Linked DNA regions of Homo sapiens. The protein of the gene in region 1 purifies or fractionates together with the protein of each later gene. This does not show direct contact. Each region holds a gene or a part of one and is shown on either strand. Other genes may lie near its edges.

Evidence for each region.
Region 2: the proteins of CCDC172 (region 1) and BBS4 purify together in Homo sapiens (affinity purification with mass spectrometry; 2 studies listed by BioGRID and IntAct, with this or other methods). This does not show direct contact.

Annotation. Positions count from the first base shown.
Region 1 is NC_000010.11:116,330,897-116,334,720, reverse strand, and holds part of CCDC172 (coiled-coil domain-containing protein 172), read right to left. Parts: intron 1-3,824.
Region 2 is NC_000015.10:72,692,634-72,696,457, reverse strand, and holds part of BBS4 (BBSome complex member BBS4), read right to left. Parts: intron 1,282-3,824; coding exon 1,230-1,281; intron 1-1,229.

The DNA.
Region 1 (3,824 bases):
AAAAGCTAGGATAAGTGCACAAAGATGTATGTATACAGTTATCACTGCAATGATGATAGAAACAGTAATTTATTAATACAATAGTAAATACTTATCAATAAGAAATTAGTTAAATAAAATATAGTATTACATTTAATGGAATACTACGCAGCAATTAAAATTGCTTATTTATATATATATTTACTCAGATGTCTAGGTTACAGTAAATAGAAAAAAGCAAATTATTTAAGAAAAATATAAATCCATTTAAACAATTTTGAAAGAAAACCTATGAAAATGTTAACCGTGTGGTGGAATTATAGGTGATTTTCACTCTGCTTTTTGCCAATTTCTATTTTTGGAATAATTTGCAATAAATAAACACTACTTTTATAAAGAGTTAAAACAATCAAACTATCTTAATTTTGAAAAGTAATCTACTGCATGTTCACCAAATATAATGGTAGAAGGCCTCAGAATTTCCCAGGAATAAAACCCACTTTTCCAGTAGGAACATAAGCGAGAAATCTTAGTAAAGACGGGGAGGAGCGGGAGCTCAGAACGAAAAGAACATTTTAGAGTAATAATCTGATCCATTTGCTCACTGTGGTGGTCCCATCTCTCCCTTTCCTTCCTCTATCTCTCTTGGGAGGAATTTTTAACCAGAAGAAATTAGACTACATTTGAAACTGTGGAACTCATCTGAACAAAGGAAACTGAGGTATACAGCCTTTTAACTTATCTTGAAATATGAATTCAGGCAATAACAATCCATGAGACCATATATGCAACAAAGCCTACACGAGAAATTCTTCCTATCAGCATCAGATCACAGGTACAGCTGTAAGTCGCCAGTTGCCTTTGATCCTTCCCACTCACCTTTTCAGAACTCACCTCCTGTTCCAAAGTCCACAGTCAACTCTTTTCAAAATAACCCCTAAACTGCAAAATTATTCTTCCTCTTTTCCTCAAATAAAACTCCTATTCCTCCAAAGCTGCTCATCTCAGCGAGACAGTAATCTGATTAGGGAAAGACCAGCAAAGCACAAATACTGACCGGTCAAGAACATCTTGTACTGATACGTTTTAATCTGAAAGACTCTTCCTGGGGAGCAACTTTAAAGTAAGATAACTTCTGTGTTATTTGACAACTCAGGTGGCAGTACCTTACCTTACCTATCACCACACATCTTAGGATACAAAACAAAGGGATGCTGAGGTAGTGTTTATTCATGCACTGCTTTTAATGGAAGAACTATAAAATGTCACACATTCTTTAAAACATACATCTTCCTCAACAAATAAGAAAACTTGGCACATGTGCAAGAAATAATCATATCTCAGGCAATAAAGCTACACTACAAGAACACTAGAAATTGGGCTGGGGGTACTCACATCAGCTTGTCAATCAGCTTTAGCTCTAAGAAAGTAGTTGATTCTTCCAGTATTCAAGAAAATGAGAACAGGACAAAAAACAATTTATATATTGTATTTATAGGCAAATTGCAGGTCTGAACAAATCTCACAGAATAACAACATGAACCCTATGAAAAATACTGTTAACAGAAGAGATAAAGAGAATTATCCAAAAGATTACAGTGAAGAGCACAGGATGAAAAAAAAATTGTAATCAATTACTTACTGTTCTTAAAAGGATGCAAACAAAGACATGTCCACTAGAAAACAAGAGCAAGGAAGGACATAGCAGAGAAAGATAAAAACAGAACAAGCTGAAATTTTTAAAAATTAGAGTGTTAAAAAAGAGAAGACAACACATGATTTAAATTTGCAGAGAGCATTAAATAACTAAAACTAATACTGCAAAAAATAGAATTAGGGATGTAAAGGATACAAAGTTTTCCCAGACTTCTGAGGATTCAATTCAGAGAAAAGAGAATAAAGCTCTTCTAAATTATAAGAAATGGGTGTATTGAAAACAAACTCTATGAAATAATAGCTGAGGTTAAAATGGAAGGCTCACCCTTGTTCCAGAAAAAAAAAACCATATCTGTACCAAATTTGGAATTATAGATTGTTTAAAATCATAAAAGCAATCAGGGAAGAAAACAAAACCTAACAGGTTACCTTAAAATAGGATTTTTAAAAACCAGGTTGACTTCAATACTTCTCTTCTGCATTAATAAATTTCAGAATATAATAGTGCTAGATCCACAAAATGTTGTAAAAAAAGGTTTGACTCAATAATTCTGTACAGACAAGTTTCCATGCAAGTGTGAAGATAACAGAAATTTCAGATATTAATAGCTTAGAAGATCTGTCATTCACAACTTCCTCCTACAAAATTACAATTACAGACTCATCAAAAAACAAATAAAAAAATAAGAACTCAAGAATGACAACGTGAGGCATTGAAGAGTTTTATAGTGCAGAATTATGGTTAATATGGCAGTAAAAGCAAAAGTAGAAAGGACTTACTTTCTACTCCAAACAAAGAGAAATGCTAGATAAAATCTAACTACATTTAAAATATTTATCATTTACATAGCTAAGCCAAAAGGAGGAGGGAAATCTTCATGCAAGAAACAAATAGACAGCTCAGTGTAAGGATGGTGATAAAATTCAAGCCCACAGGAGCATCTTTCAGAAAGGATACAGGCATTAGGGATTAGGCTTTAAATGCCCACATAAGAACAAAAATCACAGGCAAAGAGAGCCAGGGTTGGACTCATTGTACTGCCAGGAATTGAGAAATATCTATGCCAGTTACGAAAGATGGATAAAAAACTCCACCTGTTGCCCTAGAGATGCAGTGTATAAGTGAGCTATATCCCATTGAGCCATGAGTGGAAAACGAGTCATATCCTGAGAATTTGAACCCTGAGATTCTCTTATCCATACAGTGCAGAAATCTTGAGCTCAGAATTTAACATAAAAACTGGTCCTTAACAGGGGAAACCTGTGAGGCCCTGGCAGCAGGGGTGAAACTGCTTCTTAGGGACATCTTTTCTATCAAAGGAATATGTCGAACAGCCAGGAGAGATAAGTTCTTCTAAAGATAAGTTCAATAAAATAAAATCAATAATAAATCTTAAAGTTAATAAGAAAATCTACCACCATGTAAGAAAGGCATCAAATCAAACAAGTAGAATTCAAGGCAGAGGAAAATAGAAAACAGGATTCTATGAGAAAAATTTTAACTTATTCACTCACTAAATGTCTGTTTAATACCTACTATTATTCAGGCACTGTTCTAGATGCTGGGAATAACAGCAATGAACAAAATAGATTAATTTCTATCCCTTGTGGAGCTTACATTCCACTGGAGGGAGACAAATAATAAACAGATCAATATAAAATATGCCAAGAGGTGGTACATATCACACAGCATAGAGACAGGGAGAGATGGTAATGCTATTTTATATAGGGAGGTCAGGGAGGGGCCTCTACAGAGAGGGGGCCTCAAATTTTTGGGTCTTTTGACCTCTTCATAGTCTAAAAAATTATTGAGAATTTCTTTTTGTTTGATTGTTTTCATGAATTATATCTAGAAATATTTTCTGTATCAAAATTAAAACTGAAAAATTTTTAAACATTAATTTAATAACAATAATCCTATTGCATTTTAAATACCACATTTGTATTGAAAAATGACTTTCCAAAACAAAAACAAATTAGAAAAAGGAGTTGCATATAGATTTTTTACAAATCTCATTAACATCTGGCTTAATGGAAGACAGCTGAGACCAGGTTTGGTGGTTCACGCCTGTAATTTCAGAACTTTGAGAGACCAAAGTGGGAGGATCACCTGAGGCCAGGAGTTCAAAACTAGCCTGGGCAAAATAGCAAGACCCTGTCTCTAGAAAACAATATATTTTTTAAATTAG
Region 2 (3,824 bases), on another chromosome or scaffold:
ACTTGATTATGGTGCTACTAGTGGTTACATGGCTAGTTTCATTTGTCGAAACTCAGAATTTGTACTAAAAAAAGGGAATTTTACTCTACGAAAATTATATGTTGATACCATTCAAAGACTGGCCAAAGCAAAACTAAAATAGCTAAATAAATAACTAAAACTAAAATATTATCAGGCAAAGTAGACTTCAAACAAGGAATATTATCAGAAATTGAAGAGGAATATTATATAAAGACAAACGGGTCAATTTACCAAGAAATCAGACAATCCTAAATGTATATGCATCCAACAACAGATCTTCAAAATACACAAATCAAAAATTGATAGAACTGAAAGTAGAAACAAATCCACAATTACATTTGCACACTTCAACACTCTTCTATCACCCTTCCAATCAGTAACTACATCAGTAAGAATATGAATATCTGTAATTGTAAGTATATACAGAACACTATCAACCAACTTGACCTAATTGACATTTACAGAATGCTACATCCTACAAGAGCAGAATACACATTATTTCCAAGTGTACATGGGACATGCACCAACACAGGCCACATTGTGGGCCATAAAACAAACCATATAAAGAATGTTCTCTACCCACAATAGAATTAAACTAGAAACCAACAAAGCAAAAAGATACCTGGAACTTCACAAAGTGGTTTTTCCAGAAGCAGAAAATTAGTACACACTTACATAATAATCAAACCCCATTTAAATAATTTCCAGGTCAAACCAACCTCCTAATATCTAATAACTCTATTAAATAAAAGCTAGATGTGACAGAACATTTAGACTATTACTTCTTTTCCCAACACTCATTTTGAAATAATATAGAATAGATAAAAGAATCAACAAGAGAGAGAAATCTGGCCAGGCGTGGCGGCTCACGCCTGTAATCCCAACACTTTGGGAGGCCAAGGTGGGCAGATCACCTGAGGTCAGGAGTTCGAGACCAGCCTGGCAAACACAGTGAAACCTCATCTCTACTAAAACACAAAAGTTAGCCAGGTGTGGTGGCGTGCACCTGTAATCCCAGCTACTCGGGAGGCTGAGGCAGGAGAATTGCTTGAGCCCCAGAGGCAAAGGTTGCAGTGAGCCAAGATTGTGCTACTGCACTCCAGCCTGGGTGACAGTGAGACTCTGCCTCCAAAAAAAAAAATAAATAAATAAATAAAAGAGAAATCTGTCTGTGCAAACATACACATACCATGAAACTGCATACAGACCTTTTTTCTGCCGGGGTTTTTGAGACTCAGTAGATACAGGAAATTGAGTTCTCTGAAATGAAATAAGTAGTCTATATTGAAGCACCACAATATAAACTTGCTAACTTAAAGAAGCATCCAAATAACAAGAATAATCAGTAGCTCACCAATTATGCAATTAATCCATTAAATCCATATTGTGATAGAGTTACTTTAAATATGGTTTAAAAAACAAATGTCAAGTCATACTTTTGCTATCCAAACTATTAACAATGTATAACACATATTTATAATATTTACAATGTGCATTTTTAATGTATAATTATAGTATATAGTAAAATGTGCATAAGAAATATACTCAGTTCTTAAACACCTCATATGAGTATTATACTTGATGCCATACTTCTCAGCAGCCAAACCAAAAAAGTGATCGCTGTTTGATAAAAGGAAGCTTATGAGATCATCTACACAGAAACTGTCTAGCACTCAATTCTAAAAGGGAGATAGTTATTTTCCACTATAACCTCATAGAAAACCATCAAATGAATTTTTCTTTTCTCAACTTCCTATGACATACCACAATATAAGCAAAAATAATGGCTCAAATTTTTCCAGATGTAATGAGAAACACCAATCCTTAGTTTCTGGATACTCAACAAATCCTGACCAGGTTAAATGAAAATAAATACATACTTAGATACATCATAGCGAACTGCACCAGAGACAAGAAGCAGCTCTTAAAAGCAGCCAAACAAGAAAACATATCACCAGATTACCAACAAAGAAAGGACAGTTATTTGAGAGGCCAAGGCGAGAGGATCACTTGAGGTCAGGAGTTCAAGACCAGCCTGGACAACATGGTGAAACCCCGTCTCTACTAAATATACAAAAATTAGCTCGGCATGGTGGCACGTGCCTATAGTCCCAGCTACTTGGGAGGCTGAGGCAGGAGAATGGCTTGAACTTGGGAAGCAGAGGTTGCAATGAGCCAAGATCGTACCATCGCCCCCCGGCCTGGGCAACAGAGCAAGACTACGTCTCAAAAAAAAAAAAAAAGGAAAGAAAGGCCAGACGCCGTGCCTCATGCCTGTAATTGCAGCACTTTGGGAGGCCAAGGCAGGTGGATCACCTGAGGTTAGGAGTTCAACACCAGCCTGGCCAACATGGTGAAGCCCCATCTCTACTAAAAATACAAAAATTAGCTGGGTGTGGTGGCAGGCACCTGTAATCCCAGCTACTTGGGAGGCTGAGGCAGGAAAATCGCTTGAACCCAGAAGGCAGAGGTTGCAGTGGGCCAAGATCACACCACTGCACTCCAGCTTGGGCGATAAGAGCAAAACTCCATTTCAAAAAAAAAAGAAGAAGAAAAAGAAAAACAAAAAAGACTGACAGCTGGCTCTTCAACAATTAAAAATGGAAGACAATATCACAATAAGACATCATAAGAATAATTACTCCAGTGTCAGGTACTAAGTAAAATGAATGTTAATTTAGACCAGAGGTCAGCAAACTATGGCCCACAGGTCAAATCCATCCTGTTTATTTGGTCTACAAGCTACGAATGATTTTTACATTTTTATATGGTTAAAAAAATTCAAAAAATAATAATTTTTAACACATGAAAATTGAGTCAAATTTCAGTGTCTATAAACAAAATTTGTGAGAACATACCCACACTCATGTTTACATAATGTCTATGGTTGCTTTTGTCCTACAACAGCATTGCTGAGTAGTTGTCAGAGAGACTCTATGGCCCACAAAGCCCACAATATTTACTATCTGGCCCTTTACAAAAAAAGGTTTGCTAACACCTGATCTAGATTCTCTCACCCATCAAAACTAATTTTCAACAACAAAGGCAAATTTTTAAAACTTTCAGAATTTGAGAGTTTTTAGATTCTCACCAAATAAACTTTTAATGAAAATATATTAGGAAAAAGAAAAATAATCCCAGAACAAAGGAGTGGAATAAGCAAAGGAATTGGTAAAATAAGCAAGTATTCTAAGCATCTACTGACTGAATAAAACAAACAAAAAGCATAATTTGTGGTGTTTAATTAAAATACATTAAGAACTACAAAACTAAACAACAATGGCATACATTTGCAGATGGCAATAGATGGTAGTAAAGCATTTGATGGTCCCTGTAGTAGCAACATTTAGGCCTGGACTTACAGTAAACATGTATTTTTTAATTTCTTTGGTACTCATTAAAGGAAGGCAAAGTATAACTTCCAAGGCATGAAATAAGAGGAGCAGAAAGGGAGGGGTAACAGATGGAAATTCAGTTTTTTTAAAAAAAAGAAAGGAGGTAGAAAAAAATGCAATTCTCCAGTTTAAGACAGATAGATCAGCCAGGTGTGGTGGCTCACACCTATAATCCCAGCACTTTGGGAGGCTGAGGCAGGAGGATCACACGAGCCTAGAAATTTGAGAACAGCTTGGGCAAAACAGCGAGACTCTGCCTCTATAAAAAAAACTTTAGAAATTAGCCAGGCATAGTGGCAGGTGCCCTTAGTCCTAGCTACTCAGAAGGCTGAGGTGGGAGGATCTCTTAAGCCCAGGAAGCGGAGTTGCAGCAAGCCATGATTGGACCACTGCACTCCAGCCTGAGGA